5 linked regions of the Homo sapiens genome follow. The protein of the gene in region 1 purifies or fractionates together with the protein of each later gene. This does not show direct contact. Each region holds a gene or a part of one and is shown on either strand. Other genes may lie near its edges. The genes, in order: H2AZ2, XPNPEP1, HK2, FKBP9 and TRNT1.

Evidence for each region.
Region 2: the proteins of H2AZ2 (region 1) and XPNPEP1 fractionate together in Homo sapiens (co-fractionation; one large-scale study listed by BioGRID). This does not show direct contact.
Region 3: the proteins of H2AZ2 (region 1) and HK2 fractionate together in Homo sapiens (co-fractionation; one large-scale study listed by BioGRID). This does not show direct contact.
Region 4: the proteins of H2AZ2 (region 1) and FKBP9 fractionate together in Homo sapiens (co-fractionation; one large-scale study listed by BioGRID). This does not show direct contact.
Region 5: the proteins of H2AZ2 (region 1) and TRNT1 fractionate together in Homo sapiens (co-fractionation; one large-scale study listed by BioGRID). This does not show direct contact.

Annotation. Positions count from the first base shown.
Region 1 is NC_000007.14:44,841,579-44,845,099, reverse strand, and holds part of H2AZ2 (histone H2A.V), read left to right. Parts: intron 1-1,745; coding exon 1,746-1,823; intron 1,824-3,521. UniProt on the Homo sapiens protein: Variant histone H2A which replaces conventional H2A in a subset of nucleosomes. Nucleosomes wrap and compact DNA into chromatin, limiting DNA accessibility to the cellular machineries which require DNA as a template.
Region 2 is NC_000010.11:109,913,510-109,917,030, forward strand, and holds part of XPNPEP1 (xaa-Pro aminopeptidase 1), read right to left. Parts: intron 1,591-3,521; coding exon 1,502-1,590; intron 1-1,501. UniProt on the Homo sapiens protein: Metalloaminopeptidase that catalyzes the removal of a penultimate prolyl residue from the N-termini of peptides, such as Arg-Pro-Pro. Contributes to the degradation of bradykinin.
Region 3 is NC_000002.12:74,886,115-74,889,635, reverse strand, and holds part of HK2 (hexokinase-2), read right to left. Parts: intron 3,343-3,521; coding exon 3,243-3,342; intron 3,147-3,242; coding exon 2,963-3,146; intron 1,734-2,962; coding exon 1,578-1,733; intron 392-1,577; coding exon 158-391; intron 1-157. UniProt on the Homo sapiens protein: Catalyzes the phosphorylation of hexose, such as D-glucose and D-fructose, to hexose 6-phosphate (D-glucose 6-phosphate and D-fructose 6-phosphate, respectively).
Region 4 is NC_000007.14:33,004,929-33,007,444, forward strand, and holds the end of FKBP9 (peptidyl-prolyl cis-trans isomerase FKBP9 isoform 1 precursor), read left to right. Parts: intron 1-246; coding exon 247-423; 3' UTR 424-2,000; downstream 2,001-2,516. UniProt on the Homo sapiens protein: PPIases accelerate the folding of proteins during protein synthesis.
Region 5 is NC_000003.12:3,129,924-3,133,444, reverse strand, and holds part of TRNT1 (CCA tRNA nucleotidyltransferase 1, mitochondrial), read right to left. Parts: exon of another isoform or gene 2,766-3,521; intron 1-2,765. UniProt on the Homo sapiens protein: Nucleotidyltransferase that catalyzes the addition and repair of the essential 3'-terminal CCA sequence in tRNAs, which is necessary for the attachment of amino acids to the 3' terminus of tRNA molecules, using CTP and ATP as substrates. tRNA 3'-terminal CCA addition is required both for tRNA processing and repair.

The sequences.
Region 1 (3,521 bases):
TAGCTACAAAGGGGATATGCCATTTCAAAGCTTACCATCTATTTTGAAAGAATAGCCCCTCAAACAGCCAATCTTGTAAACTGATTTCTTTTTTTAACAGTAAAGAAATAATCTGTTTAAATGGTAAAAGCAAAATATATGAGAGAAAATTAGTTTTCTTAAGTCAGACCTTTAGTATTTCCTCCCGAGAGGCAAATAACATTTCTAATTTATTGTGTCACCTACTAGAAATACATGTGTACACATATACTCTATAATACCCCATATTTACTTAAAAGCTCATTACATTGGCACATACTTTGCCTTTTTCATGCAGAAATAGGTTTTTTTAAAGCGTACAGTTCAGTGGCATTAAGTACATTTATAGTGTGCAACCATCACTGCCTTCTGCCTCTAGAACTTTTTCATCTTCCCAAGTGGAAACTCTACCCATTCAACAATAACTCGGCCAGGCGCAGTGGCTCACGCCTGTAATCCCAGTACTTTGGGAGGATGAGACAGGCAGATCACTTGAGGTCAGGAGTTCAAGACCAGCCTGGCCAACATGCAGAAACCTTGTTGGTACTAAAAATACAAAAATTAGCAGGGCATGGTGGCGCGCACCTATACTACCAGCTACTTAGGAGGCTGAGGCAGGAGAATCACTTGAACCCAGGAGGCAGCTACCCCTGGCAACCACAAATCTGCTTTCTGACCATGAACTTTACTATTTTAGGGACCTCATAAGTAGAATCATACAGTATTTGTCTTTTTTGTAACTGGCTTATTTTCCTTAGCATAATGTCCTCAAGGCCCATTCATGTTGTAGCTTGTGTCAGAATTTCCTTTTTAAAGCTGAATACTATTCCATTATATGTATATCATTTTGTTCATCCATCATTGGACACTCAAGATTGTTTCTACCTTTTGGCTATTCTGAATAATGCTTCTGTGAACGTGGGTATACATGTATTTGTTTGAATCCTTGCTTTCAATTTTTAGGTGTATACCTAGAAGTGGAATTGCTAGACTATATGACAATTCTGTGTTTAATTTTTTGAGGTTTTTTTTTTTTTTCTTGGAACATGCTTTATTTTTCTGAGAGCTAAGTTCTAAATATTTCTGTGGAAGTAATATATGTTACATTGACATTGATAAAAATTGTGAAATATTTCATGTATGCATAAAAGTTATATTGACTTGCAAGATTCTTTAATCTGGAAATTGATAAATATGTTTGTTTTTAAAAATCTCATATTTTTCAGCCTGGCACTGTGGCTTATGCCTGTAATCCCAGCACTTTGGGAGGCCTAGGCGGGCGGATCACTTGAGGTCAGGAGTTCAAGACCAGCTTGGCCAACATAGTGAAACCCACCTCTACTAAAAATACAAAAATTAGCCATGTGTGGTGGTGTGCGCCTGTAATCTCAGCTACTCAGGAGGCTGAGGCAGGAGAATCGCTTGAGCCCAGGAGGTGGAGTTTGCAGTGAGTCAAGGTCGCACCACTGCACTCCAGCCTGGGCAACAGAGCTAGACTCCATCTCAAGAAAAAAGAAAAATATTTTAAATAAGTGTTTAAGGTTTGATTTCTTTGATAGAAATTATAAAAGGTGATAGAATCCCATGTATATTTACAAATGAGGAAGGGGATCACCTACATATTGTTAACTACCTAAAGTAAAACTAGAAAAAATTCTGTTTCCAGAATATTTTTGAAGTAGTATTTTCAACTCTTTTCATTCAAAAAAATTTTTTTTTGCATTTAGGCTGGAGGCAAAGCTGGAAAGGACAGTGGGAAGGCCAAGGCTAAGGCAGTATCTCGCTCACAGAGAGCTGGGCTACAGGTAATGAATCCATGCTGTCATTACATTATTATTTTCTTTACTGTTGTAATTTATGACCTATGTTTCATCAATTACAAAAATCTACTTGTATTACTACAGACTTTTTTTTTTTTTTTTTTTTTTTTTTTTTTTTTTTTTTGAGACAGAGTCTCACTCTGTCGTCAGGCTGGAGTGCAGTGGTGCAATCTCGGCTCACTGCAACCTCTGCCTCCTGGATTCAAGCGATTCTCCTGCCTCAGGCTCCCACATAGCTGGGACTGCAGGCGTGCGCCACCATACCCAGCTAGTTTTTGTATTTTTAGTAGAGACGGGATTTCACCATGTTGGCCAAGATGGTCTCAATCTCTTGACCTCGTGATCTGCCTGCCTCAGCCTCCCAGAGGGCTGGAATTACAGGCATGAGCCACCGCGCCTGGCTGAGAAACCCTTTTAATCAGGAAGGCTAAGCTGTAAACTGTTATCCTCTTGGCAGTGGTAAGCCATTGAGAGTTTGAGCCAGAGGACAACATTATCCAGATGATACCGAAAGAAGGGGGATGGGAACTTAAACTGATATGCACATTCTGTATTTTAGGTCTCCATGTATATTCCCAATTAGAATTTATTTTAAGGCATACTTAATTTGAAGTAGAAAATGGAAGGCCAATGGAGGTTTTTGCAGTGGTTTAGGAATAAAGTAACATACTTGAATGGGAAGGAGTAGAAAGCATGTGTGTGCAGAAAATAGGTGAAGCAGTATAAGGTTGAGAGAAAGTCACAGGTTTCTCTAAGGCTTAGAACCTAAGGAACAGAGGAGTTTGTAGTAGGGGCAAGTTATGAGTAAATTTAAATGGAATCATTTTGAAGTTCACTAAAACATCCATGTGAAAATGTCCAGAAGTTGGAAACATGAGTTCAGCTTTCTAATAGAGGTGATAGAATTAGGAATTTGAGATCATTTATGTAAAATGGATAGTTTATGTTATGGATGAGTTTCCTAACCTAAGAGAATGAGAAAGGAGCACAGGGACGTTGGTGGACCCCTGAAAAACTTTAAGAAAAGGCTGAGGAGTAGTCAGACTTGGTATGAGAACTCTGAAGTCTAAGATGAAATGTTTTTGAGGGCCTACTGTATGCCAGACAACATACTGGTTACTAAGGATACAAAGGAAAAGAAGACATAAATCTTGCCCTTAAGAAGCTTTTGGTCACTTAGAGATGAAGTATAAATGCAAAAAAAAGATTGCTTGTTTTTATTAAGGAAGTAAAATGTCACTGCTGGCCTTCAAAGGTCAAGTTAGGGTTAGGAAAAATGGGTGACAAGGAAGTAAGGGTTTCAGGATTTGTTTTTTCAATTCAGTCTTTGGAAAGAGACTGTCTAGACTGTAACTGGAAGCAGTTTTCATAGATTGTGAAGTTTTCAGTAAAGTCTGTAGAAGGAAAGGAACCAGCGGAAAGGAAGTAATTGTAGCTGTTGAAATAATGGAGCAGTGAAGGGTTGAGGGAGGCCTGTAAGAAAGGCACAGACTGGCGGGGCACAGTGGCTCATGCCTGTAATCCCAGCACTTTGGGAGGCTAAGGTGGACAGATCACTCAAAACCCTGTCTCTACTAAAAATACAAAACAGCCAGGCGTCCTGGCGCGCCTATAATCCCACCTACTCAGGAGGCTGAGGCAGGAGAATCGCCTGAACCCGGGAGGCGGAGGTTGCAGTGAGCC
Region 2 (3,521 bases), on another chromosome or scaffold:
ACGCTAAGGGCTTTACATACATTAGTGGCTAATTCTCACAACAATCCTCCAAGGGAGGTTTCACTATTCTCATTTTACACATAAAGGAACAGGAGTTAAAAGGAGTTAAGTACTTGCCCAAAGTCAGCTGGTTCATCAGGAACCGGGACTCAAGGTCTATGCAATTCCCAAGTCCATGCTCTATTACACCATATTAGCTGGGGGACATAATAGAGCCTTAAAGTGTTCTAAGACCAACAGAAGCAAAACAAGTGAGCTCCAGTTTCCAGCTGGGATCTACAACCTCAGGCAACTGAAGCTACCTAACCTCTATTTCCTCATACATTACAAAAAGAAAAAGAAGTTATCTTCCAACTCTAAGTTTAATGATTCCATCACTTTTTTCCTTTCTTTACTTTCTCTTTTTCCTCCTTCCTCTGCTACCTCCTAATATGGTCCAAAATGTGTTGGATACATCTATATTTTTTAAAGAAAAAGGATCTAAAATTGCATGCAATTATAGCACTGATCTTCCAAACAGAGATTAGACGGGCATGGTTTCTTATGTACTTCAAGAGATCAATTTTTCAGTCAGCTAAAAAAAAAAAAAACACATGGTTCTCCTTAGTAGTCGTTAGAGCAGTACTGGCTTACTGGGATAGAAATACAGTAATACACCACTTTTCAGAATTCAGGTTTCTGGCAACCCATCAGACAATTAACCAGTTCTGGGGAGAAGGGACAGCCAAGAAATATTTCCCAAAAAGACTTTCCTAAATGCACACTCAATTTATAAAGGACAATAATATATTACAAGCTTTTCTCATTTTGCAATCTTATGATCAAAATTGAAAGCTAATTTCTAAGATAATGAAGGACTATATTAGAGAAATAGAGAACATTTTCCATAATAACCTATCTCCTTCTCCACCACCACCACTCTGACAAAAATGGAAAACGAAAAAAACAAACAACAAAAAAAAAGTTGTAATTCTCTAACTTACTACCTTAAAAAAAAATGGTAATGGCCAGGCGCAGTGGCTCATGCCTGTAATCCCAGCACTTTGGGAGGCCAAGGCGGGCAGATCACCTGAGGTCGGGAGTTCAAGACCAGCCTGGCCAACATGGAGAAACCCCATCTCTACTAAAAATACAAAATTAGCTGGGCGTGGTGTCGGGCGCCTGTAATCCCAGCTACTCCGGAGGCTGAGGCAGGAGAATCGCTTGAACCCGGGAGACGGAGGTTGCAGTGAGCCGAGATCACGCCATTGCACTCCAGGCTGGGTGACCAAGGGCGAGACTCCGTCTCAAAAAAAAAAAAAAAAAATGGTAAATATATAGAAACAGTAACCAACCACTTAGGAAGCCAAAAAATAAAATGGTTTTTAACTTCCAGATACTAACCCCCAGTCATGATCTGTTACTAATTCCTTACCCTCTTCTTCTCACCCAACCTGGGGTTGGGGTGGAGATCTAAAATCCTTTACAGATGTTCCATCTAATTTCCAGACAAAATTATTACCTGTTTCCACACCTGTGTCTCCTGAGTGTGTCACCTCGTTAGGTTCAATTATTCTTAAATTTCTCAGTTGAAAATCCTGGTGATTCACCCTTAAGGAGAGAAAGAACAGGAAGTTGCAGACTTTGACCACAATAAACGTGGCAAGGCTCAGTTAGAGGAGGCATCGCTTAACTTAGCAGTTCTCTAACATGAGTCAGAAGAACTTTCACCCCCATTATCAGTGGCAGAATAAATAAAAGTTTGATGTAAAACTTGCAGGTGTAAAACATCCCCATGGCAGGTTAACCTTCTCAGTTGCAGCTTCTAGTTCATAAATTCTCACACCTCCTATTTAACTAGACTAAGAAGACTTATTTTCAATGTTTTTTCCTTACACAAGTTCTATTTGGTTCTTTTTCACATCTGCCCGTTCTTTCTTTATGGTGTCCTATTCTTGCACTCTGGTTTCTATGCCTTCTCTTTGTGCCTTCATTACTGTAGGCCCTTATTTTATAATTTCTCCCATACTTTCAAATAGATCTTGGGAGACTAACCCTCATGTTTGCTAGGTCTGCTGCCTCTCCCTCTTGGTGGTTCATTCCTTCTGCGTTTTGTGATCTTTTATTAAGAGCTTATCTTCAATAGAGGCTATTTATCTATGAGAATGTGATGGGTCCTGGTTTGTACAAGCAGTTCTGTTATTGTTTGCTTCTAAGACTTTCACATTAATTTATTAGCTAGAAGATTTACACACAAACTTCTTGTTCCCATATGGGGATAGTCTAATGCCCTGGACACCAGGCATGAAGGTCTATATCTGCATCTGGTAACTTTCCCAGGCTCAGGTTACTAGCATACCACTCAGGCGTTAGGTTCCCTCTACATTTTTGGCACTTGAGGATTTCTCTTTCTTTCAAGTTCATTCAGTCAACAAATATTTATTGAAAAATCTTCCATAATCCAGGCCCTATTCTGGACACAACAGTGAACAAAACAGACAAGATCTCTGACTTTAACAAATTAAGATGGGGCAAGGCAGGGGGATGGGCAGAAGACAGGGAAGAGAAGGCAACAGACACAAAACAAGTACACAATACGTCAAGTAATAAGAACGTGTTTTGTGAAAAAAAGTAAAGCACAGCAAGGGGAAGAAAGCATCAAGGAGGTAAGGGGAAGGATTATTTCATATGGGGTAGCCAGGGACAGCCTCTATTATAACAGACAACATTTTAACACAGACCTAAAAAGAGTGAGGAAGCAAGCCATGTGAACGGCTAGGGGAACAATGTTCCAGGACAACAGCAAGTGCAAAGGCCATGAGGCAGGAGTATGTCTAGTTTACCTGAGGAAAAGCAAGAAGGTCAGCGCAGTGTGATTGTATCAGGGGATGGGGAGGTAAGTGGTTCAGAGACAACATCATTGAGGCACCAGGGGGCCTACTGTGGGGCCATAGAAAAGGTTTTGAATTTTACTCAGCTATGAACTCAATTAAGTTATAATTTAACCGCATTTTTACATGTTGGTAAAGACAGAGAGGGACACATTAGCTCAGTCTACCACACGGTAAGAACCAGATAACCAGGCAGCTTTACCAATGACTCTAGGCCTGCTTTCATATGGCTGTGACTTTAGTTTTACTGGACAGAATGGGATGTTCTTAACGAGAGTAAACATATTATTCTTTCATAAAAAAGTAAGACACCCCAATATGTCTTCTAAAATATAAATACAAATATCCTCAACAAAATACCAGCAAACGGAATCTAGAACAATATAAAAAGGATCATCATCGCCAAGTGGGTCTTATCCCAGGAATACAAGGTTGGCTCAATATATGAAAAATCAATTATTATAACAGGCCATATCAATAGAATAAAGAACAAAATCTACATGGTCTTCTCAACAAACGCAGAAAAAGCACGACAAAATCCAATGCCCCTTCAAGTTAAAAGTACTCAGCAAACTAGAAGAAAAATTCCTCAACCTGACAAAAGTTATTACAAAACCTACAGCTAACATCATTCTTAATGCTGAAAGACTG
Region 3 (3,521 bases), on another chromosome or scaffold:
TCTGATTATGAATCTTTAAACTATAATCCATGTATTATATACACTATTTGGAATGGCTGATAATTCACTATAAAGTAACAAAGGAAAGAGAGAAAGAAAAGGGAAAGAACAAAGACAGAAAGAAGGTAGGCAGGGGGGGCTGGGATCAGGCACTCACTGAGGATGTAGCTTGTAGAGGGTCCCATCCACACCCACTGTCACTTTGAGAGCGTCCAGCCCACGGTTTTCTCGTATCCTGTCCACCACAGCGGCCATGCCTGCGCCACAGAGCTGGGCTGCCCGCCGGGCCACCACAGTGCACACCTCCTTAACAATGATGCTGTCGTCACAGGTGCTCTCAAGCCCTAAGTGTTGCAGGATGGCTCGGACTTGCAGCAGGGCCAGGCAGTCACTGGGGTGGGAGGGAGACAGCAAGTGTTCAGTCATGCACCAAGAAGGCTGGTAGCCTACCACACCAGGGCCTGAGTCCTTACAGGGGAGGCTCTGTGGGGGTCTAGCTCTCCAGGAGCTGGCCCCTCGAGGTGGTTCCCATTCCTAAATTCAGACCACTGCTCAACCTACTGCACTGCATTGACTCTTCCTGACGGTGACAGGAATACAAACAGCTCCTCATTCTACTCTCCCTACTCCAGATAGACCATTACTACTACAAAGTAGATACTCAAAACAAAGCAAATTCACTGTTTATCACAGTGGTCAGTTACAAAGCTCTTTCATGTCCATTTTCTCGCTGCTGTTCATGGGTTTGCAGGGCAGGAACTAACCAAGCAGCATTAGACTCGTGCTTTATTTCTGCTCTGCTGCTCTGGGTGGTCTGAACTGTATTTATATGCTATTTACGAAGGAAGTGTAAATAAAGTTATAGAAAGAAAATAAACCCTCCTATATAAAGAAAGCTATTTTAGAAGCCTGGAATCACCTCGCTGAACATAACAGACCTATAAGCTAGAATATATCTTTCTATTCACTGGTGCAGATGCCCGAGGGGTCTACTCACATCAGTTGTCTAGTTCCTGTTCTTCTCTGCCCTGAGAGTAATGGCACAGCATTAATTTTTAAAGGGCTCTGAAATTCACTGTTCTAATTTGGAGATTTTCCACCATTTGACTGTAGGAGGGAGGCTTTGCTCTAATGAGCCACTGTGTGGCATGTGTCTGCATTGCCTGACGTTCCAACCTTTACTCAATCCTGGCTGCCTGATTACTGCAGCCAGCAGTTAGGAAGGGCTTTCAAGCCAAGTGTGGATGCTTTAATAGGTTATCTTCCTCTGTGCGTTTCAATTTACATGCTATGAGCAGGTATCTTTCTACCTTTGATACATGGTCTAAAACCCAACAATATCACTTTGCATGACCTCAGGCCAGGCTTAGCACAAACTTTCATGAGAATGCTCTGTTTGCCCTTAAAATGACAACTGCCCATAATGTGCTTTTAGTAAACACTATAGACATGAATGTGTTTGCCACTAAACTGACTTTTGTATGAGTCATGCCCTGAGTTATGGAAATCCTTCAGTTTGTCTGCCAGTGAGAAAAAAGGACATGGCCCCCCTGCTACCCTGAGCCCTAAGCTCTCACCTCTCAATCTGAGACAAGAACTTGGTTTCAAAGATGCCCCTTGTCTTGAGCCGCTCTGAGATGCGGCCTCGGAAGAGTAGTCCACGCTTGGTGAAATCGATGAGAATGTTACGGACAATCTCACCCAGGTACATTCCACTGATCATTTTCTCGAACCTGCAATGCAAGTAACATTCATGGAGGTTAAGTAGGAAGGTGGAGGGATGTGTTGAGACAGGACAGGCCAGCTTAGTCACCCCCAGTGCATCAGCAGTGGCAGACAGGCAGACTCCCCTGATGGGAAAGGAATTGCTACTTGATTCACTTGGGCAGGATCCCTGGTGTCTTTGCATGCTAATTCACAACCTTCAGCAACACTGACCACAGTGCCCGAGGCCCGTGGGGCTCCTGGGGAAATAAGCCTTGGAAAGGAACCCACAGGGAAAGGAACTCATTTCCTTTCCAAGGCTTATTTCGAAATTTCAAGAAGCAACTCGAGAAGGAACACACCATAACCCCACTGGACTTCTCGGAGCAGGGGAGAATGCTGAGTCTTAATCTTTAACCTCACTAGGCATTCAGTATACATTCTCTTGGACCTAACCATCATTACTCAAGTAACTACTGCCAGCTGTAGGGCCCCCATCCTGGCCACTGGAACTAAACGTTATTATGCAGTGGCTTGAGGGTCTTTTGGTCCTGAATCCTGCCTTGAAAAAAAAACGAGGTCCCTAGTTTCAACCAATAGCCCATCACCACCCCATCTTATCTTGACCCAGCCTGCTTCCTTCATTAATGTTGCCTGCCTGGCCCCTAGAGGCATTTTAGTCTGTAACTTCTATTCTAGACACATGTTTTGCAAAGCGTATTCTGCAGGACTAGGGTGTTTGATTAATCTAGTTAGGAAACACTACAGACAACATCTTAATGAGAAGTGTGTTAGATCTTAAGCTATTGTCTCTTAGCTCAGACCCCGCTCCCCTACCATGCACAGGACCTTGTGACACTGGGGCTGGCCCCTTGCTCAATTCTGACAGTAGGTGGTGCTCGGCGCTGGAAGATGGAGGAGGGAGAGGATTTGCTCCTGTCTGCATCACCCAAGAGATGCTCTTCAGCCTGTCAGCAGCAGGTGCTTCAACTTTCTACTTGTTTCTCCTTAGAGTGCCAGACCTAGGGTCTAGTATTCTCCCACCTGTTCTCCTAGGCTTTTGGGTGGGAGATGCTTCTTACATTTACTAACTCAGAACTTTCCAGGTGCATTCGACAAGAAACCCTTTCCAAGAAAACCTCCTTTATTAACATCTCACGAGAACCGGCGTCCTGGGAGATGCCATTGTGGAAGCTCTGATCACTTGTTGCCATCCAGTCCTGGGATACACTTAACAGGGCCCCAGTTGGGTGCCTACCTCTGCTTGCCGGGGTTGAGTGAAAGCTCATCCACAGCCACATCAAATTCTGTGCGGAAGTCATCTAGGCATCCATTGTCCCCGAAGGCCCCCCATTCCATGTTCACACACATCCGCCCCTCTTCTCCTTCCACCAGTTCCACGTTGCGCATCTCCTCCATGTAGCAGGCATTGCTGCCCGTGCCTGCCAATCACAGGATACCAGGGCCTCACTCAGCACCAACCCCTCCACACCCAAGGCTGTGCATCCCCATGTGGAAAGGACAGTCTGGGTCCTTACCAACAATGAGGCCAACTTCACAGTGAGGGTCTTCAAAGCCACAGGTCATCATAGTTCCGACTGTGTCGTTCACCACAGCAACCACATCCAGGTCAAACTCCTGAGAGGGAAGAAGCAGATGCCCAGTTCACAGGTGAACCCCAATATTCTCCTTTCAGACAATTGCATGGGAGATTTACAGGTATATAAAATATATATCATACACCATGGCTGACCCTCTCATTCCATTCAGGTCTGTGCTTAAATGTCACCTCTTTGGTGAGACCCTCCCAAGTTGTG
Region 4 (2,516 bases), about 12 Mb from region 1:
GGGTATTGGCTACCTGAATAATAAGGGCTCTTGGAGTCATTTAGCACAAGGGTTTTTCACCTGCATTTAGAGAAAAAAAACAAAACACAGATCATAGGTCATATAGCTGCCAAAAAGATCTTGTCTGTGTTGGTAGCCCAGACTCAAGTTCCAGCCCTGTCACCCCCAGACTGCTCTGTTTCTGGCCCCAGGCCTGGCGTTCATGGCGGCTGAACTCATGGTCTTTCCTGTCCCCTTCTTTTCCAGTTCTCAGAGTACATTCACGCCCAGGTGGCATCTGGCAAAGGGAAACTCGCTCCTGGCTTTGATGCTGAGCTGATTGTGAAGAATATGTTCACCAACCAGGACCGGAATGGAGATGGGAAGGTCACAGCCGAGGAATTTAAACTCAAAGACCAGGAAGCCAAACACGATGAACTCTAAACCTGGCATGAACCAGATGGTGCCAGGGAGTACGTGACACCAAGCCACCTGTGTGGCAAGACGTGCAGTGAGGGTGCAAGGGTCTCTCAGAAGTTGCATCATTAGCCAGTAGTAGGTGGGTCACATAGTACCTGGTGTACACATCGGGGTGGGTTGATATATGGGGTGAGAAGTTTGGGCTGATCGCCAGTGATAGTAAACAAAATCTGTGCAGAGGGCCTTAGCATGGGATGTGTCCAGTATTGAAAAGGCTGCACTGCCAACCATGATTTGTGAGCCTTCTGGGAAATTTTGTTATTAAAGGAATATATAGTGTCAGACGGAAGTTATAATCATCTTGGAGGAACCATAAGAAAAGGTGTCCAGGGTATCTATATAAAGAGGGTTAAATTTTTTTTTAACTTGCTGGTTAAAACATTTTAGAAATATTCTAGAGATGGGCAGGAGAGTCAAAGGGCTTGCTTGCCCCAGCAGAGTTCCCAGCAGACAGCCATGGCTCTTCCCAGCAGCCTGTGCAAATTCTGATGATGGCCCCACCCCCGCACACGCACACGCACATCATGCTTTTCCAGCTCATCACACCCCGCCCCACTATGGGCCTACCATTAATAGTGTATAACTTGGAGGTTAAAAGAGCCTTTTGGACAGAAAACTGGGCCAGGAAAAGGCATCTCAGACCACAAATAGAGAATTTGATTCCTCATTTGCCACATAAGTCATCTGCTTAGCTTTTCCTTTCCTTTTTTTTTTTTTTTTTTTTTCTGGAGGCAGAGTCTCCCTTTGTCGCCAGGCTGGAGTGCAGTGGTGCCATCTCGGCTCACTGCAGCACTGTCTCGGCTCACTGCAGCCTCCGCCTCCCGTATTCAAGCGATTCTCCTGTCTCAGCCTCCTGAGTAGCTGGGACTACAGGTGTGCACCACCACGCCCGGCTAATTTTTGTATTTTTAGTAGAGACGGGGTTTCACTGTGTTGGCCAGGATGGTCTCAATCTCGACCTCGTGATCCGCCCACCTTGGCCTCCCAAAGTGTTGGGATTACAGGCGTGACTCACCATGCCCAGCCACTTAGTTTTTTCTTATTCCCACCTTTCTATCCCATAGAACACTCTTTTTTATCTTCCCTGAACCATATTGATGAGATAAATAGGGCTGGGGGCTGGGCCCCGCTGGTCACTCAACAGAGTATTTCCCTTGGCCGAGATGGAAGTTTTGTCCCAATAGATGAGCTGCTGAGCATCAACAAGGTGACATTTTTCTGCTGCCCATTTGTGTCCTGGAGACGGTGGTACCCTGAAGGCAGAGGCCAGCTGCCGCAAGACAGCAATGACAGTCCACCTGCCGACCTGATTCCTGCATCATGGAATAACCACATGGCTACCTTCTATCCTCTGTTCCCAAATGGTGGTGGCACTTATCCTGAAGTCGTCAATGATTTCCCTTTGAAACTACTTTATTTTACTAATTTAAACTATTTTGTACTGATGTAGCCCTGAGGTAGTTCATGAAAATGCTGTGCACTCATTCCATGGAATAAATGTTGGAAAGCTGATCTTTTCTGATATAAAATGTTGAATGATATTATCTGGTTTTCTGATATTTTATTGGAAGGCTGAAGACCTATGAGAATGCACCATGCAGTCAGAATCCCCTTGATGAAAACAGCAGGACTTCACTGCATTTACTGAGGGAGCGCACTCTACTTATAGGGAGTGTCAGTCAGGGTCCTGGCCCTCCTCTGGGACTCCTGAAGAGAAGCTAAGGAAAGGACTGTTTAGAGGGGTGTGGGCGAGGCTGGGGGAACTGAGGCTGTTGAGTGCCAGTGACAGCAGTGTTGGCCACCGCAGGAGGCTGCTACCACCAGGGCCTGAGAGCTCAAGAGGAGGCAGTGGGAGCAGCACAGGAAGGGCTACCTGGAGGCGTAACAGAGGGATGCAGCCAGCTGCATCTGACAGTGCGGCTGACACTGCAGCAGAGCGAGGGACAAACGCCCCATCCCCTCTGTGCCCCCATTCTCTGATGCCTGCCACTGGCTCCCATTAGTGGAACCATGTTGGAAGCCAGAGGGTAAGAGGAGCTCAGAGACTGGAGTTCTCA
Region 5 (3,521 bases), on another chromosome or scaffold:
TGGGACTACAGGTGTGCATCACTGTAACTGGCTAAATTTATTATTATTATTTTTGTACAGATGGGATTTCACTATGTTGCTCAGGCTGGTCTCTAACTCCTGGGCTCAAGCAATTCTCCCATCTCGGCCTCCCAAAGTGCTGGGAGATTATAGGCATGAGCTACCACAGCTAGCTGGGAAATAATCTTCTATGCCACTAGCATATGATTGTACTGAAGCAAAAAGATACATAAAATAACCTGACAAATTATAAAACCCTTATGATATGACAATAATACACTATTCTAGTCTCTCATATTCTTGCATACTGAAAACTAATTTTACACATGGCAAAGCAGCTATTAAGATTTGAAAATTGGTACAGGATTTAAACTCCAAGTATCACTATATAGCAGCCATCAGAAAGGCTGTGTGTTTTTGTACATTTTGATTTTATACAGAACATTACATTTTACCAGGGCACCCAAGTCTTTGACATTCTAACTTGTTGATCATTGCACTAAAAGATTCCATTCTTGCCACTTCTCCAGTAGCCTAGAAAAAGTCAACTTTAGAATATATCCATGTTCTCATTTGCCAGTCCTTCAAGGACAGGACTCTGGAAGCAATCACCACCTCTACCTTACCACACCATTTAGGCTCTAACTTCCTTAGGACCTCATTTCTCAGGGTGGAGAAAATCCAGTGTTTTTTTTTTGTGTTTTTTTTTTTTTCCTTCAATAGGTATATGTTTTTTTTTATTTTTTTAATTTTTTTTTTTTTATTATACTCTAAGTTTTAGGGTACATGTGCACATTGTGCAGGTTAGTTACATATGTATACATGTGCCATGCTGGTGCGCTGCACCCACTAACGTGTCATCTAGCATTAGGTATATCTCCCAATGCTATCCCTCCCCCCTCCCCCGACCCCACCACAGTCCCCAGAGTGTGATATTCCCCTTCCTGTGTCCATGTGATCTCATTGTTCAATTCCCACCTATGAGTGAGAATATGCGGTGTTTGGTTTTTTGTTCTTGCGATAGTTTACTGAGAATGATGGTTTCCAGTTTCATCCATGTCCCTACAAAGGACATGAACTCATCATTTTTTATGGCTGCATAGTATTCCATGGTGTATATGTGCCACATTTTCTTAATCCAGTCTATCATTGTTGGACATTTGGGTTGGTTCCAAGTCTTTGCTATTGTGAATAGTGCCGCAATAAACATACGTGTGCATGTCTCTTTATAGCAGCATGATTTATAGTCCTTTGGGTATATACCCAGTAATGGGATGGCTGGGTCAAATGGTATTTCTAGTTCTAGATCCCTGAGGAATCGCCACACTGACTTCCACAATGGTTGAACTAGTTTACAGTCCCACCAACAGTGTAAAAGTGTTCCTATTTCTCCACATCCTCTCCAGCACCTGTTGTTTCCTGACTTTTTAATGATTGCCATTCTAACTGGTGTGAGATGATATCTCATAGTGGTTTTGATTTGCATTTCTCTGATGGCCAGTGATGATGAGCATTTTTTCATGTGTTTTTTGGCTGCATAAATGTCTTCTTTTGAGAAGTGTCTGTTCATGTCCTTCGCCCACTTTTTGATGGGGTTGTTTGTTTTTTTCTTGTAAATTTGTTTGAGTTCATTGTAGATTCTGGATATTAGCCCTTTGTCAGATGAGTAGGTTGCGAAAATTTTCTCCCATGTTGTGGGTTGCCTGTTCACTCTGATGGTAGTTTCTTTTGCTGTGCAGAAGCTCTTTAGTTTAATTAGATCCCATTTGTCAATTCTGGCTTTTGTTGCCATTGCTTTTGGTGTTTTGGACATGAAGTCCTCGCCCACGCCTATGTCCTGAATGGTAATGCCTAGGTTTTCTTCTAGGGTTTTTATGGTTTTAGGTCTAACGTTTAAATCTTTAATCCATCTTGAATTGATTTTTGTATAAGGTGTAAGGAAGGGATCCAGTTTCAGCTTTCTACATATGGCTAGCCAGTTTCAGGTTTAGAACGTTAAACACAATTGTTAAAATGATGTTCAAGAAACTATAGTAATCAATATTTAGAACCTTATTTCCAAAAAATGCAGAATGACCTGAGTTAGGCCATCAAGAGTTAATTACTACTCCTTCTTCCAAGAGGCCTCTTGCAATTGAAGTTGAAAAATTGGGGGCTGTGAAGGGCATACACAGAAAGAAAAAAGCTTCAACTCAACCCAAAATCACAGCTTCAAAATCTGCACTATTCAAACAGCAGCCACTTGTACTTACTGAGCACTTAAAATGTGGTAAGTCTGAATTCAGATGTGCTGTATTAAATGCATGCCAGACTTCAAAGACTTCCAAGTAAGAATATAAAATATCTCATTAATTTTTTTTTTTTTTTAAAGACACGGTCTGTGTCGCCCAGGCTGGAGTGTAGTGGCACAATCTCGGCTTACCGCAAGCCCCCCTCCCAGGCTTCAGTGATCCTCCCACCTCAGCCTCCCAAGTAGCAGGGACTACAGACACATATCAGTATGCTTGCCTATTTTTCATATTTTTAGTAGAGATGGGGTTTCACCGTGTTGCCCAGGCTGGTCTCAAACTCCTGGGCTCAAGTGATCCACCCACCTCAGCCACTCAAAAGTGCTGGGATTACAGGTATGAGCCACCATGTCCAGCCTCCCAAAGTGCTAGGATTACAGGTGGGAGACACTGTGCCCGGCCTCATTAACAATTTTTATACAAAATTCATACTGATAGTATCTTAGATATATTGGATTAAATTAGATGAACCAAAAATAATTATTAAAATTTATTTCACCATTTCTATCTTTTTAATGTGGTTAGTAAAAAAGTTTATATTACATATGGGCTCATAAATTTCTATTGGACAGCAATTTTTAGCAATTTTCACTCTCTCCAATTAAAAAAGATAGTGAAGCATCGGCAAAACCAAACATGCATTTAAGCCCTCTACTTAAAGTCTGCCTAAAACAATCTAAAAGAATCAACATATTCTGGGCCATTTATCTCTGGCACGTACCTAAAAAGCCATCATCCAATTTCAAGAATGGGAAAGTAGCTTTGAGAATAAGCTAATACAAGGTGAGTCATGTTAAAGTAATGGTTCGTCTATCTTCTGTGCATCAGAATTAACTTGTGGAGCTTTTATTAAAAATATAGATGGTCATCCCACCCAGAGATTCTAATTCAGTAGGCTGCAGGTAGAACCCGAGCATGTGTGCTTTAAAAGCTCCCCAGGTGAATCTAATAGATAGCCAGTGCTGTATAGGTCATATTTCTACATATACTACTAAATATATTTATGAAGGTGCTATTAAAATTCCCACAGGCTTTGTAATGCTACTGTGTGGCTGCTTTAGCAACATCAGCAGACAACATTGAGAATCAACACTAATGAAACTGTGGCAACAGCAAGAAGCTACTGGCACTTAGCTAAAGCCATTTCCTATGCTCCTTCCAGACAGGTTTTGCAACGTGCACAATGGAGGCAACTCCTATTTCCTTCTTCCTTCAGTTCTCATGGAAAGCATT